2 separate regions of the Homo sapiens genome follow, and region 1 is linked to region 2. The links come from fine-mapping of genetic effects on gene expression. A gene starts in region 2. The other region holds a variant in brackets. All regions are shown on one strand. Distances are from middle to middle.

Region 1 (8,000 bases), 32 kb after region 2:
CAAACGGCTTTAGTAATTTTACTACTGGTTTCACAGCTTTTCAGTTACAGTTGGTCTGTTTAGTGTGTTAATTATTAGGAATCGGGTACATGCATCCAACTTCAGTGATACCTTCTAGCTAATGGTTTCAATTTAGACTTCACTGCCTCAGTCTCACTGGGTACATGAGAAGGTTGGAATCAACATGCTTAGTTGCCTCAGTGGGCACTTGAAAATTCCTTCACTGGCAGCCCGAGTGGAGGCCCAGTATGTCTAGTCCTGGGATGACTGTTGTCAGCAGCTGTTACTCTAGTACAGGTGCTCCTGTGAACTCTTTATTAGGAACTGAATGTGTCTTAACCTCTGTGTTACATCTTGGCTGGCAGAGATTTATGTTACATGAGATTGTCTTGGTAGCTTGTAGTGTGGTCAGGAGAAAGGGGATGGAGCAGTGGTGCATAGCTGCTTACTGCTCTTATAAACGGTATATAAAGGTTTTACGGATTTTGAAAATATTTTTTTTTAGAGGTCAAAATAAATACCATTTTAGTGGCAACAGCTTTGAACTAGAGAGGTAGATGTATTAAAGCAGCATAGAACCATAACTTCTAGATAATGTAGTTGCCACTAGGAGATATTAGAAAGTTAGAATGTATGTGTGTATTTAGTTTTTCAATAATAATGAACATACACTTTCAGGAGCAAAGTATGGTTGAGAAATTGTGGCAGAAAGAATTTTAAATGTTAGTCGAAGTTGTCTGTAGTTTCTTTATTAAGCTCTGAAAACACTTCCAATGCCAGTTTGATTCTGAGGGCTTGGGAAGTGGGATCTCCCTTGTGGAGCAGCTGGAGCTGGCTGGGAGGGAGCCTCTCCATGGGTAATTTATTATGCCTGCCCTGCTTCCCCCAGGGAGCTGCTTCAGTGTGAAATGATGTGATTGTCGGGGGTGGGGTGGGAGGAGGGCCACCTTCAGTCGGGGAGTTGCTCACATATTACACAGGTAGCATCAGGTGGACTTCAGCGCTGAACTGTACTAGTAGTGAGTCCCTGTAGTCAATGTGCAATTTCTCTAATTCTGAGAAACTCTGTAGACTCTGCCTGGGTTTTACTGGGTCAGCATAGAATGCTATCAGTTTACCTCTGTGAAATATTCAGTCAGTTGAAGGAAACTTGGATTCCTAGTCAGAGGTGACTAAAAGTTACCCTGACCAAAAGGATCTCTGCGGGGGGAAGAGAATGGAGCTTCCTGATTTTAATGTGTTGCGTCAGTGGCCCTCTTCGACTCCCGTTTTGGGTAGATGCGTAGCTCTTCACTTTCTTACCTCAAGGCTCTGTCTAGCCATGTTAAATCTTTAGACTCAGTCTGATGCCGTTTTTCTGTTTTGCCATTCTCATTATTCACAGCTTTCAGAACAAGTGTTGCTAAAACTCCGGGGCCTTTGACAGTTGTTCTGAGGTGATTTAATAATGGACTTTTTATAAGTTATGTTTTCCTGGCTCTAAAGTAAATTTTTTTTTTTTTTTTTTTGAGACAGAGTCTTGCTTTGTTGCCCAGGCTGGAGTGTGGTGGGGCAATCTCGGCTCACTGCAACCTCCACCTCCCGGGTTCAAGCGATTCTCCTGCCTCAGCCTCCTGAGTAGCTGGGATTACAGGTGTGTGCCACCATGCTTGGCTAATTTTTGTATTTTTAGTAGAGACGGGGTTTCACCATGTTAGCCAGGCTGGTCTCAAACTCCTGACCTTGTGATCTGCCCGCCTCAGCCTCCCAAAGTGCTAGGATTACGGGTGTGAGCAACCCTGCCCGGCCAGTAAATTGTATTTTTTTAATGACATCATTGATTTGAAGATCTAGATGGCATAAATTACGACGTCTGCCATCGCATATTAGAAAGGGGACAGTCATATTTGTAACGTGGAGAGAACACGGAGCACCAGTCACCACGTGCACTTAGGATGCAGAGCTTACCGCACACCGCTGATGGGGACCTCCGGAAAGAGCGGTGCCTTGTGGTTGGCCTGGAAGTTCTCTCCCAAGGTGAAATTCCTTTAAAACCTCAGGCTCTGACCTATGTCTTTGAAGCAGCTGCTTTGTAGAGTCCCTCTCTTTACTGTCCTCGTTAGGACTGTTTTGTGGTTCCATGAAAATGTTTAGCATCCTTGCAGAATTACTTGAGAAGGGGCTGGTACCAGTGTAAAGAATCTATTTCTGTAAAACTACGAACTTTTGCATAGGGAATTTATTCTAAGCAGGTCATAGCCGTGATCCAGAGCTGCTGCTGCTCACTGCCAGTCCTTGCGGCTGGCGGCGATTGCCGGACAGACTCTCTGTGGCCTGGCTCTCATCCTTGGCGTGTCAGCCTGCGGCAGGCTGCCAGCCATCCATGACAATCATGTGAGCTCAGCCACAGACCTCAGCTGGCGGTTTGATCCCTGGCAGGTCCCTCGAGCAGTACTGGTAAGAGGCTTCACACATTTTCCCACTCTTACAGTTCATTTTTCATAGTAGGAAGGGCCCTTGGCCTCCCCAGTGCCTCTTCCAGAGCCTCCACCAGCACTAAGCTCAGAGGAAAGAAGAAAAGGGCCAGGAGTCAGACGTCACACCCGGGGGCTCCCCTTTCCCATGTAGAAGTGTTGGCATGCGTCAGTCTCCTTTACAGAGGGGTGGATGTATCCGTGGAGGAGGGGCCTTCTCTCTTTCTAATTGCACTATACTTGTTCTAGCTTCAGTCTGGAGATACTTAAGACCTCCATGGGGTCGTGATCCATAGACTTAGCAAGTCTTGCCTTATCTATGGAGCTCGATGGTGAGAATTGTGACCATTGTCTGATGTCCATAGTTCCTTCCCCCTAGATTGTTTCTTTCCACGGATTGTGTTCATCTGAACCATTTTATTTTTTATTTACCAAAGTACTGTACTTGGCTATTTGCAGTGTTTTCAAAACCAAATGTTTCTTTTTTTGTGTTTTTAATCTTCGATACTTGGTGCAATAGAAGCTGCAAAGATGTGCCACTTTATCTATGAAATGGAGTTTTGTATACCAATAAATTCTAGTTTAAAAACAAAGTTTTAAGTTGTTTTTATCAGTATCTGACCACCGTTTGAGTGAATGCAAGGAGGCTGAGTGTGCTGGGAAATGTCCTTTTTGGAGACCTTTGTGTGGAAGCTTTGCGTGTTTGCGTGTGCTGGATTGAGTATTCTAGGTGTATAATAGTACTTTGGGATCTGACTAAGCTTAGAACAGCTGATTTTTGCTTTAGTGCAGCTAAATGCAGCCACCAAACACAATGGCAGGGTCATTCTTAAGGACTACACACTTAAGATTTCTGCCTGATATCTGAGAGCATCTCTTGATAAGTTTGAAACTGTTTAAATATGTAGCAGTTGTCTGTCAGCGGCCACTTTGGGCTCCTCTAGAACTCTCAAGATTGTTTGACCCCATTCAAGGAGGAGGCTCCCTGCCAAGGCACAGACAGTACCATCTGGGGGCACAACTCACCTAGAAGGGTCCACAGGAAACCAGAGCGAAGGGAGTCCTTCATTGCGTCCAGCAGGGGCCCCATCCACACAAGGGCTCTGGCTCGGCAGACCTCACCATGTCATGATTTTGACCTTGAGACTCCCATTCTCCCATTCTTCATTTTGTATTCAACAAGCAGCCTTCTGAATTGGCTCCCTGTTGCCTTGACACAAAAAAGGACTAGATGGTTTTCTGGATGAAAGTCAAGAATATTCTAGCTTCTGCAAGCAGATTCTCCCACAATCTCTCAAGTGATCTTCTCTGTGTGATTCTTCTTCAGTCCACAACTGAGAGACCCATCATCTCTGGATAGACACACACTGTCTGGTTCCTGAGCCTGTGAGGCCCAGATTCCAGACCCCATTTAACCTGAGATTCTTCCAGGAAATCTGCTATGGTCCAAAGTGATGTCCCAATCCAGGTGCTGCCCGCACACTGGAAAACTTCCATGGCCTCCTTAATCCCATTCCAGGGATTCAGCTGGGGCCAGGTGGCTGCTGCTAGGGATTAGAGGGGCTTCCTGTTTGGGCAGCGTTGGACCAGGTGACCTGTAAGATCCTGTGTGGGAGATAGGATGAGTCTTTAAGGACAGAGAAGTGTTCTTGAGCCAGGTAGGGACAAGTGGCTGTGCCTTTGTCCCTTCTTGGTAACCGCTCATGGTCACCTTGGAGAAAGCCTGGCTGAAAACCTGGGTGTT[T/C]AGAGTTGCATCAGCGAGTCACCACCCCAGGCTTCTGGCCTTTCCCTTCCTCCAATGCACAGAAACAAGAGTGTGTGTCTTGAGACACAGTTCATAAAAAGCTCTGCTCCAATATGGTTTTGGCTGGACAGAATGGTTTTTGCTGATGGAATGGGCACTCTCAGACCATTGAGATGCAGAGATTTAGAACTTGGTTGCAAAGGCTTGAGGCCAGTCCTGTCACTTCACAGATTCTGGCTTGGCAGAAGGAAACATTTCCTATCTTCTTGGAGAAACTTGTCTGAACCTCCCTATGGTAGAAGGACTTGGGTATCCCCAGAGGATTGTTTCTGTTCAATTTATTCATCTAAACATCCAAGAATCCATCTGACATCTAGTGAACCTCTACTCTGTATGGGTCCTTATTTCTGGGCATTGAAACAGTCATGGATCCTGCCTTCAAAAAGCCTCCAGTCCGGGAATGAAAGTGGACACGTCACTGACCCAGGAGAGAGCACATGCCATAAAGGAGGTACTGATGAGAGGGCTGTGAGTTCAGAGAATTCGGGAAGGCTTGGTGGAGGAAGTGAGATTTGGACGAGGCACGAAAGGGGAGACAGGATACAGAAATAGGGAGCGAAGACATGTTGGACTGAATGGCCAGCGCAAGCAAAACCTAGGAGTGGGATGGGTATGCTCCAGTGTTTAGGACAGAGCTTATTATGGATGTATAATCAGTTTGGAGAAAGACTGGGAACTTCTTGAAACACCTCTCATGTGCCTTTCACTACTGGAAGAGTAGTGCTGTGCTTGCTGAATGGATTCTCAAGATCAGGCCTGGGTGCAGTGGCTGACATCTGTAATCCCTGCACTTTGGGAGGCTGGGGCAGGAGGCTTGCTCACACTCAGGAGTTCAAGACCAGTTTGGTCAATCTAGCGAGATCCCGTCTCTATGCATGCACACACAAAATTACTGGGGTTTGGGGCTGGGTGCCTGTCTGTAGTCCCTCCTACTCAGGAGGCTGAGGCAGGAGGATCACTTGAGCTCAGGAGTATTAGGCTGCAGTGAGCTTTATCACACCACAACACTCCAGCCTGGGTGACAGGGTGAGACCCTGTCTCAAAACCCCAAAACAACAAAGATCTGCCTGACGGCTTTTTAGTGTCTGGAGTTGGCCTGTGTGTGCATTCTAACCTGGCAATGTTACAGGTAGCGCCTGCCTGGAAAAATGCTGCACCATCTATCTCTGCCTTTGGGGGACATTAGCGCAGAATTCAATTGAACAGGTACCTGTTTAGCATCTACTGTGTGACATTTGCAATTGGAGAGCAAAAATACAGAAGGTGGCCAAGCGTAGATGGAGCAGCTAGCATGCCCCGGACACTTTGGATACATGGTCTCATTTGAACTTGAAAACCACCCTGTGAGGCTGATGGTTCTATTCAGGAATAAATAATTGTCCCAAGATCACAGCTTAGTAGCAGAGACAGGATTTGAACCCAGAGCAGTCTGCCGCCACCATGCAAGGACCCAAATAACGGGATAAGCAGTTCTAGGAAAGGTATAAACACAGCTTGGCAGTTCAAGGAGGGTGAAATCCGCTCCAATTGAAACAGCATCATAGAAAAGGTGACATTTGGGACTGGGCAGGGTGGCTTATCCCTGTAATCCCAACAGTTTGGGAGGCTGAGGCAGGAGGATTGCTTGAGGCCAGGAGTTTGAGACCAGCCTGGCAACATAGCGAGACCCGGTCTCTACCAAAAATAAGTAAGTTAGCCAGAATTGATGGCACACACCTGTTGTCCCAGCTACGTGGGAGGCTAAGGTGGGAGGCTTGCTTGAGTCGAGGAGGTTAAGGCTGCAGTGAACTATGATCGTGCCACTGCAGTCCAACCTGGGCAAGAGGGAGACCCTGTCTCTGAATATAAAGGAAGAGACGACATTTGGGATTCACTTTAAGCCCATGGATTTTAGCGTGGTGATGTGCCTGTGGGCAAGGGAGGCTTTTAGGTTGAGAGAAGCTACTGCACAAGGATATGAAGGCAGGACAGCAGAGGAGCTTAGTAAATAGATATTGCTGCATAAGAGGCTGGAAAAGCAGATGACACCAAGCCTGGAATACCAGGGGCTGGTGGACAATGGGGAGTCACTGATGGTTCAGGAGCAGAGGAGTGACATGATGAAAATCAGGCTCTGGGAAAATGAAGCTGGCATCAGTGGACAGGATGGAGATGTGATGAAGGATGGAGGGTTTAAGAACCATTAGTCCTGATACTCTCTTGTTAGGGGTGTCACATTACTTGCTAGTGTAGAATTATTGCTGTTTTCTGTCTGCTGGTTGACTCTGTCTGATTCGTGTCTATCTCCAGCATCCAGGAAAAGACCAGAAGCATAATTTGCATAAAACTTATTGAAGGAAAGAATTAACTTTAGTATTCAGTTCTCTGGTGGTGACATTGCAAAGAACCCCAGTGAAGCAGATGCATGTCCAGGAAATCCTAATCAGACTCCTCATTGAACTTGGGAATTCCACTGTGATTTCTGGTCACTAATTGAGGAAGGTCTTTACCTTTGCACTTCATGCATAGCTTTTGTTAGGTGCTAAATAGGAACAAAAGCAAAACCAATCCAAATCCTCTCATCAAAATTGGAGAGGCAAACTATGAAACATTTAGGTAAGAATGTCCCCTCCCCAGCTTTGACACAGTCCCGTTGCCTACTTTACTCATCCAATGAATTAGCACACATAAAGCACTTACAACAGTGCCTGGCAAATGCCTAGTGCACAGCAAGTGTTAGCTATTGTTAATGACTATCCATTCATTCATTCCTAGAACACGAGTGATTTTTCAGTGCTAGCCATTATTTGTACATTTTCATGCATGTTATCTCAAACTTTGCCATAACCAGCCTGCTGGGGAAATGTCATACTTCCATTTGACAAATGCAGAGACTGAGACTCCATTTATCAGCACTTAGATTTTAATGTGCACACGAATCATCAGGGGGGCTTGTTAACTTACAGATTCTGATTCAGCAGGTCTGGGGTCAGGTCCAAGATTCTGCATTTTGAACAGGATCCCTGCTGCTGCTTCTGCGGCTGCCCCTGCCCATGGACCACGTTGAATAGCAAAGGTCTAAGCAGAGCCACTGCTGCTAAAGCGGCAGAACAAAGCGCTCTACCTGGAACCTCCCAGTTCAAGTTCAGGCTTCTCCCTTCCTTTTTTTCAGTCTCTTTTGCAAGTCTGCTGCTGGGTATCAAGGGTTCTCTAGATACGCACACATAGGCAAACAGGATTTAAGCAGGCCCCTTGATCCCGTCATCAAACATTTATTGGCCAGGCGCGGTGGCTCACGCCTGTAATCCCAGCACTTTGGGAGGCCGAGGTAGGCGGATCACGAGGTCAGGAGATCGAGACCATCCTGACTAACACGGTGAAACCCCGTCTCTACTAAAAATACAAAAAATTAGCCAGGCATGTTGGCGGGCGCCTGTAGTCCCAGCTACTGGGGAGGCTGAGGCAGGAGAATGGCGTGAACCCGGGAGGCGGAGCTTGCAGTGAGCCGAGATCGTGCCACTGCACTCCATCCTGGGCGACAGAGCGAGACTCCGTCTCAAAAAAACAAAACAAAACAAAAAACCCAAAACATTTATCGAGCCCTGGGAAAGCAAAGAGTAAAGGCTGGTCTGTGGCCAAAAGACAGCTTGGTTTTGGTGGGTGGGGGTGGGTGAGTAGCAGGGGTCACAGCAGGCTGCGCTGGAATCTTGCTCCTAAGTTTCAATGTTTGTTTCGTCGGACAGTTATACAACTGTTAAGATCAT
Region 2 (8,000 bases):
CTGAGCACATTGGGAAGCTGAGGCGGGAGCAGCCTGGGCAACATAGTAAGACCTCGTCTCTATAAAAATTAAACAGAAAATTAGCGGGCCGTGGTGGCTTGCGCCTGTAGTCCCAGCTACTAGGGAGGCTGAAGCAGGAGGATGGCTTGAGCCTGGGGGGGTGGAGGTTGCAGTGGGCCGTGATGGCGCCACTGCACACCTGTTTAGGAGACAGAGCAAGACCCTGTCTCAAAAAAACAAAAAAGTAAAAAACACACCCCTAGGTGGTTTTATATGCTAAGGATACACGTTATGCGTGTTAGAGCACGTCGATGCTAAGCGCATGTGCCAACTGCAGGTCTGTCTTTGCATGTTTGACCTCAGCAGTATTTCATGAATATGCATGTACAGCTCCCATAAAGGGAATTCCCCGTAAGGTACTAGGGGCTGCCTCTCCCTTTTAGCAGCCTGCTTTGCCTCTCAGAGTGTACTTTTGAAGCAGCTACACTGTCTGGGGTATATACCCTGGGGTTCGTCATCTCGCACCAGGAAAATTTAGCTCACGGACACACACGAGGAGTTTAGGAGCTGAGGTTTAATAGGCAGAAGAGAAGAGAAAGAGCAACAGCTCTTTCAGGAGAGAGAGGTGTCTCCGAGTGGAAAAGAACTGTTGGTAGTGATGCACTGGATTTTATAGTCTAGCTTGAGGAGGCGGTGTCTGATTTACATAGGGCTCACAGATTGGTTCAATCAGGTGTGACATTTACATAGCAGGGAAGGCTGGTTCCCCACCCTAATCTTATTATGCAAATAAATTATCCTTGGCAGGCTATCTTGTCTGCTCCTTACTGTACACGTGGCTGGCAGAGAAGAGGCGATGAAGCCGCCATCTTGAACATGTCTAGTCGGTAGTTCCCTGTGGCATTTACCCGTGCAAGCTCCCAGCTTGTTTGTGTCTGCAGCTCCACTTTACAGGCTACTCTGTTAGAAGATGATTTGGGGCTGCTTTTCATTAAAAAGAAAAGCCTTACCGAGGACTCCCATGCCCTTACTATCTGCCTACGCGATTTCTTCTTAACTCCTGTATCACTTTTGCTTTGCAATAAACTTCTTTGCCTGCTCTTTGGAGTACTTTGGACTCACTCTCAAATTCTTTTACGTGGCTAAGTCAAGAACCTGAACGGGCCAACTGCCAACACTTGGACATACCTTCTAGTGCACGTGCATGTAATTTGCTTTAGGACTATCTGCGTCTGAGAGTGTACTTTTGAAGGAGCTACATTGTCCGGAGTATATACCCTGGGGTTCATCGTCTTGCACGAGGAAAATTTAGAATACGGATACACACGAGGAGTTTAGGAGGAGATGTAATATTTCTATTTTTAGGATAGATCACGAGATGTAGACACTAGACATTTAAAATGTTACCAGATACAGGCCAGGTGCAGTGGTTCATGCCTCTAATCCCAGCACAGTAAGAGGCTGAGGCACGCGGATCACCTGAGATCAGGAGTTCGAGACCAGACTGGCCAACATGGTGAAACCTCGCCTCTACTAAAAATACAAAAAAAAAAAAAAAAAAATTAGCTGGGCATGGTGGTGTGTGCCTGTATTCCCAGCTGCTCTGGAGGCTGAAGCAGGAGAATCTCTGACAATCTCTTCAGCCCGGGAGGCAGAGGTTGCAGTAAGCCGAGATCATACCACGGCACTCCAGCCTGGGCAACAGAACAAGACTCCATCTCAAAACAAACAAACAAACAAAAAAACAAAAAAAACCCCAAAGTTACCAGATACAGTCCAAATTGCCCTCCAAAGTGGCTAGATAAATTTACCTCCCAACAGCAGTGTGCGAGAGTTCTCATTTTCCCATACCCTTGATGGTATGTTCTTGAAAGTCCTAAAGCTGCATTTCTTCACTAAAATTCTGTTAGTCACACTTTTTACTAATTTATACTGCCATCCAATGAGGTTTGATTACTATTATTATTATTTTTGAGACAGGGTCTTGCTCTGTCACCTAGGCTGGAGTGCAGTGGCACAGTCATACCTCACTGCAGCCTCAAACTCCCAGGTTCAAGTGATCCTCCAACTTCAGCCCCTCCCGAATAGCTGGGACTACAGGCATGCATCACCATGCCCAGCTAATTAAAATTTTTTTGCAGAGATGGGGAATCTCACTTTGTTGCCCAGGCAGATCTTGAACTCCTGGGCTCAAGCAATACCCCCACTTTGGCCTCCCAAAGTCCTGGGATTACAGGCATGAGCCACTGTGCGGGTCAATGATTCTTTTAATTAACTCTAGCGAAGTGGGCAGAGCATTCATTTTATTTACAAGTACTATACTCCTTCCCTTTGGCCTTTAAATATAATTTATAGGCAGCATTGATTTGCACTTAGAGACACTGTCTAACACAGGTCTCCGCTGAGAAGAGAAATTCGCCCATTCAAAATCTGTGTGTGGGCTAAAGGCTAAGGGCTTATGCCAGAAAAGATTTTTTGTTTGTGTTTTTGTTTTTGTTTTGAGAAGGAGTTTCACTCTTGTTGCCCAGACTGGAGTGCAATGGCGCAATCTCGGCTCACTGCAACCTTTGCCTCCCGGGTTCAAGCGATTCTCCTGCCTCAGCCTCCCCAGTAGCTGGGATTACAGGCTGGCCTCGAACTCCTCACCTCAGGTGATCCGCCCGCCTCCACCTCCCAAAGTGTTGGGATTACAAGCGTGAGCCACACGCCCAGCCAAAAAGATTTTTACAAGACGGGCAAGTGTTCGCTTTTCTATCAATATGTTAGCAGTCTGTATTTACTTATTTGCTGGTGAGAAACCTTTCTTCCCTGGTTTCTAAAGTTTGAAAGTCTTTGCCCCTGAGCTCATGAGATTTCCAGAGAACTGATTCAAACAACTTCATTAAATAGGTACTTACTTCATGCCTGGGGCTTTACATTTTTATTTAATCTTTACAACTCTCTTTTGCATTCTTATTGTCATCAGAAAAATGCAAATCAAAATCACGATGAAATACCATCTCATGCCAGTTAGAATGGCTTTTGTTAAAAAGAAAAAATAGCAGATGTTGCTGAGGCTGTGGGGAAAAGGGGAACATTTTTACACTGTTGGTGGGAATGTAAATTAGTTCAGCCACTGTGGAGAGCAGTTTGGAGATTTCTCAAAGAACTAAAAATTGAACTACCACTCGACCCAGCAATCTCATTACTGGGTCTATACTCAAAGGAATATATATCGTTCTATCAAAAAGACAGATGCACCCGTATGTTCACTGCAGCACTATTCACAATAGCAAAGACATAGAATCAACCCAGGTACGCATCAACAGTGGATTAGATAAAGAAAATGTGGTATATATACACCATGGAATACTATGCAGCCATAAAAAAGAACAAAATCATGTCCAGGAAGAGGGGAGAACAGCAACATGGATACAGCTGGAAACCATTATCCTAAGTGAACTAAGGCAGAAACAGAAAACCAAATACTGCACGTTCTTATAAGTGGGAGCTAAACATTGGATACACATGGACACAAAGATGGGAACAATAGACTCTGGGGAATACAAGAGTCGGGAGGCAGTTGGGGGAAAGGGTTGAAAAACTACCTATTGTGTATTGTGTACTTTGCTCACTACCTGGGTGACAGATTCATTTGTACTCCAAACCTCAGCCTCACGCAATATAGATGGGGTTTCACCATCTTGGCCAGCTGGCCAGGCTGGTCTCGAACTCCTGACCTCAGGCGATCCCCTGGCCTCGGCTTCCCAAAGTGTTGGGATTACAGGCGTGGGCCACTGCACCTGGCCTCAGTTTTTGTTTTTGTTTTTTTGTTTGTTTGTTTTTTGAGATGGAGTCTCGCTCTGTCCCCCAGGCTGGAGTGCAGTGGTGCAATCTCGGCTCACTGCAAGCTCCGCTTCCCGGGTTCATGCCATTCTCCTGCCTCAGCCTCCCGAGTAGCTGGGACTACAGGCGCCCGCCACCACGCCCGGCTAATTTTTGTATTTTTAGTAGAGACGGGGTTTCACAGTGTTAGCCAGGATGGTCTCCATCTCCTGACTTTGTGGTCAGCCCGCCTCGGCCTCCCAAAGTGCTGGGATTACAGGTGTGAGCCATCACGCCCAGCCTGGTCTGTCTCAGTTTTAAAACGGAAAGTCCTGCATCCCAAGAAAACCTCTAGTCCAGGCAAACCTAGGTGGGTCGCTCTAGGATGGAATTAGGATTTCCAGTGGTCTTGGACAGAAGGGCGACCTCTCCCTTGAGTTACGAAGGAAGGCGGAGAGATGAAGGGCAGGATTAAATAAACAAGTATGCGGGCTTTGGAGCCAGGGCAAAGCTCTGCCTTTTAGCTGTGTGATCTTGAAATTATTTAACCACTCAGATTCAGTTTCCTGTAATTTGGGGATAATTAAACAAGAATGAGCCGTGTGAAAGTGCCTATCCAACTGTAGTAGGCTCGCAGCAAGAGTTTAAATCGTTTTTATTCATCTCCGGTCCTAACTTTTGCCGCTGCTCTGTGTTCCACTCTTCTATCATCTTTAATTTCTCTGCTTGACTTGTTCCTGCTTTGTTCTCTCTGGTCCCTCTCCGGTCGCTCCTGCCACTCACGTTGAGTACCATCCACCACTAGAGGGCGGAATAGAACAAACCAAGATGGGTGCCCCTCCAGCTCTCTATGGCGTCTGCTCGCCGAGCCCCGCAAAAGAGGCGGGGATTCCATCATGTGACCGGGGTGCTGGGCGCCGGCGCAGGCGCGGTTGCTGCGTAGTCGTCGCCGGGCTCCGTTGCCCGCGCTGTTTTACCTTCCCAACGCTTGAGGCGGACGCTGGGGGGTCCTGCGCCTTTCCCTCCTGCCGCTGGGGACTGCAGGCTAAGGCCATGTCCCGAAAGCAGGCGGCGAAGAGCCGGCCGGGCAGCGGCAGCCGGAAAGCCGAGGCCGAGCGCAAGCGGGACGAGCGGGCGGCGCGCCGGGCCCTGGCCAAGGAGCGGCGGAATCGGCCGGAGTCTGGCGGCGGCGGCGGCTGCGAGGAGGAGTTCGTCAGCTTCGCCAACCAGCTGCAGGCCCTGGGGCTGAAGCTGCGGGAGGTGCCGGGGGACGGGTGAGGCGGGCCGGGAGCGAGGGAGGCGGCGCCGGGGGACGCGCCGGGCTCGGCCTGGCGACCGTTGCCCGCTCGCGTCCATCCATCCATTCATTCGGGCGGCCCGGGCGCCTCCCGCGAGCCAGCCACGCTCCGAGTGCAGGGCGTCCAGCTGCGAGTGAGGCGGACAAGCCCCTCGCCCCGAGACGCTCGCGGGGATCCCAAAGGGTCCTAATCATGGCAGACGCCGCGAGCGAAATAGAAAGTGGGTGCTGAGACCGTATATGGGAGCAGGGCCACTGGATTGTGGCCAGGAAGGGCTCTCTCAAAGGTGACATTTAAGCTGAGTTCTGAAGGAATGAGATGGAGCCAGGCATTGGAAAAACAGTTATCATGACGATAAGACCAGTTGAAGGAGTTTGAGTAAGCCCCACTTGGTAGAACGCTTTGCCTCCTTTGAGTCCTTGGTTTTTGGGTGGTGCCCCCATTTACATTTGTGAAATTAGGTCGCCTGTTTACTGAGCTGAAGGCAGCTTCTCTAATTCTTCCTTCCATGGGCCTCAGTTTCTCTGTAAGCAAAGGTGCTTCCCCAAGCTTTCTTGGGACTTAGACTGGATCCAGGTCCAGCTTTCTTTAGGGAACGCGGAGGGGGAGAGTGGGGAGGAGGAAGAAAATTAGCTTCAAGAAAGGGGATATGGCTCCAGGAACATGGATGGAAGAAGGAAAAGGGTCAGGAAGAGGGGAGAACAGTTAGGATCCCCATTGCAGGGGCAGGTAAAAAGGGGTCTGGTTGTCAGCTGTGTCACTTTGGAAGAGAGAGTGTTAATAACAGCCTGGCTTTTGTTTTTTTCCTCCCCGTATTTGAGTGCTCAGATCCTGCAGAGGGAAGACTAAAATGAAATTAAAGACCATAAGGAATTGCCTTAGTTCATTATTATTGTTATTTTGTAGAGACGGTGATTTTGCTGTGTTGCCCAGGCTGGTCTCGAACTCCTGGCTTCAAGCGATCCTCCTGCCTCGGCCTCCCAAAGTGCCTAGATTACAGGCATGAGCTACCACCCCCGGCCAGGAATTGCCTTAGATATTAACTGCAGAATAAGGTGTTTTAAAAATTTTCACATTACATTGCAGCTTATTGATTAAGACTGTGAACTGGTCCTAATTTCCCTTTCCCACCGTTCCTGTTTATGCTCATTGCTTCAGGCAGATTGGATTTCTTTTTGCTCACAAAGAGTTCACCACACTTTGCTGCGTTGCTGTTTTTGCTTAAGATGCAGTTGGAACTTGATTACATTTATTCACCATCATCTGGCAAAGTGCTTGGTACATGGAAGGCAGTCAGTACGTTTTTGCTGAATGAAATATAAAAATAATAGAGGGAGGTCAGCTAGCCTAAGCATAAGCCCAAGACACCCTTATAGAAACAGAAATACCAATTGAATACAGTGGAATTGGCGTGGGACATTGGGGCTTTTCCTTGCAAATGATTGGATTGCTTGTGTCTGCTATACTGGGTATGGTATTCTCAATGTCAGGGTGCCCAGGAAACTGAAGTACTCAATAGAAGGTTACTTATGAGGAGGAATTAGCACAGGGAGTTGTAAACTCTTGAGGGGGCTTTCATAAGGTTATGGGAAACTTTGGGGGTACTACTTCTGCTCCCTATCCCCACACCCCCATACACACACAGCATACTTTTCAAGTTAATTCAGCACACCTTAAGTAGGGTGCTGGGAATATGTTGATGACTAAGATACTTAAGGACTTCATAGCCTAAGGTAGAAACACGTAACAGTGGGTCTCAGCTTTTTTGGTCTTAAGATCTCTTGGCATTCTTAAAAATTACTGAGAAACCGAAAGAACTTTATATGGGTTATAGCTATGAGTATTTACTGTATTAGAAAGTAAAACAAAGTTAAAACACAAGAATACACACACATTCCATTAGCTATCAGAGTGATGACTTCATGCATCAGGTAGCCTCTGGAAAACTCCACTGCACTTGTGAGAGAATGAGAATGAAAAAGGTACATTACATCTTAGTTTTGAACTCACGGATACCCTGAAAGCATATCAGAGACCTTCCCACATCTCCGGTCCCTTGAGTCACACTTTGAGAACAGATGATACAAATAATTAAAATATAGTTTGATATATTTTTAGTAACAGTGACTGATTATAATGGTACTATTGAGAAGGAAAAGGCTACTACTCTATGAATTGGCCAGGAAGTCCTTCTCGTTCATTCGGTAAATACTCATTGGATACACTGCTAGATGCCTCTCAGAGGGTGTCATGCTCTGATTGGGTCATGAAGGACCAATAGGAGTACACCAAGAGAACGGTCCCATCTGAGAAGGAGTATATATAGAGGCACAAGGACACGATGTTTTTGGGAGATCTACAGGTTGTTTAGGGTGACGGGTAGTGTAGGGCACAAGGGTAGAAGTAACGGGCAGTGAAGCTAGGCTCCAGAAACCAGCTTGACTGGAGTGCTCATGTCTCTCTTCCAAGGTTCCTGTTATTCGGACAGTGTTAGATAAAATGATCGTATTTCCTCTTGTGTGGGCTTCATGGAGCTAACCACCTTCTGTTCACAAGTTCTTCACATGAGTTCCATTAGCTGGACTGTGGTTCAGCCCTCGTCAGTATCCTAGTCCTTTCGAATGTGGTGATGACAGACTTTATCACTGCAGGGGATGGTGTTTCCTGTGTATGTGATGGGTTGGCAGGTGTCAACAGATTCTTCTACCCCCCTCAGACGGAGTCTTACTCTGCCACCCAGGCTGGAGTGCAGTGGCACAATCTTGGCTCACTGCAATCTCTGCCTCCTGGGTTCAAACAATTCTCTTGCCTCAGCCTCCTGAGTAGCTGGGATTACAGGCACCTGCTACCACAGCCAGCTAATTTGTTTGTATTTTTAGTAGAGATGGGGTTTCACCA

The links.
Region 1: its variant is fine-mapped to the expression of OTUD3 in whole blood (TOPMed, PIP 0.98).

What each region holds. Positions count from the first base shown.
Region 1 is chr1:19,909,900-19,917,899 of GRCh38, forward strand. OTUD3 (OTU deubiquitinase 3) reads left to right here. Exons shown (of 8, transcript NM_015207.2): 8 at 1-3,046. Among named protein-coding and RNA genes, the nearest start is that of PLA2G2E, 9.7 kb to the right of the region's middle. The variant T/C (reference allele first, on the strand shown) is at 4,198.
Region 2 is chr1:19,877,657-19,885,656 of GRCh38, forward strand. OTUD3 (OTU deubiquitinase 3) reads left to right here and starts at 4,739. Exons shown (of 8, transcript NM_015207.2): 1 at 4,739-5,078. The coding sequence starts at 4,858. All of the region lies in intron 1 of LOC105376823 (a long non-coding RNA gene), which reads right to left. RefSeq lists an enhancer at 4,523-4,572 and a silencer at 4,943-5,282.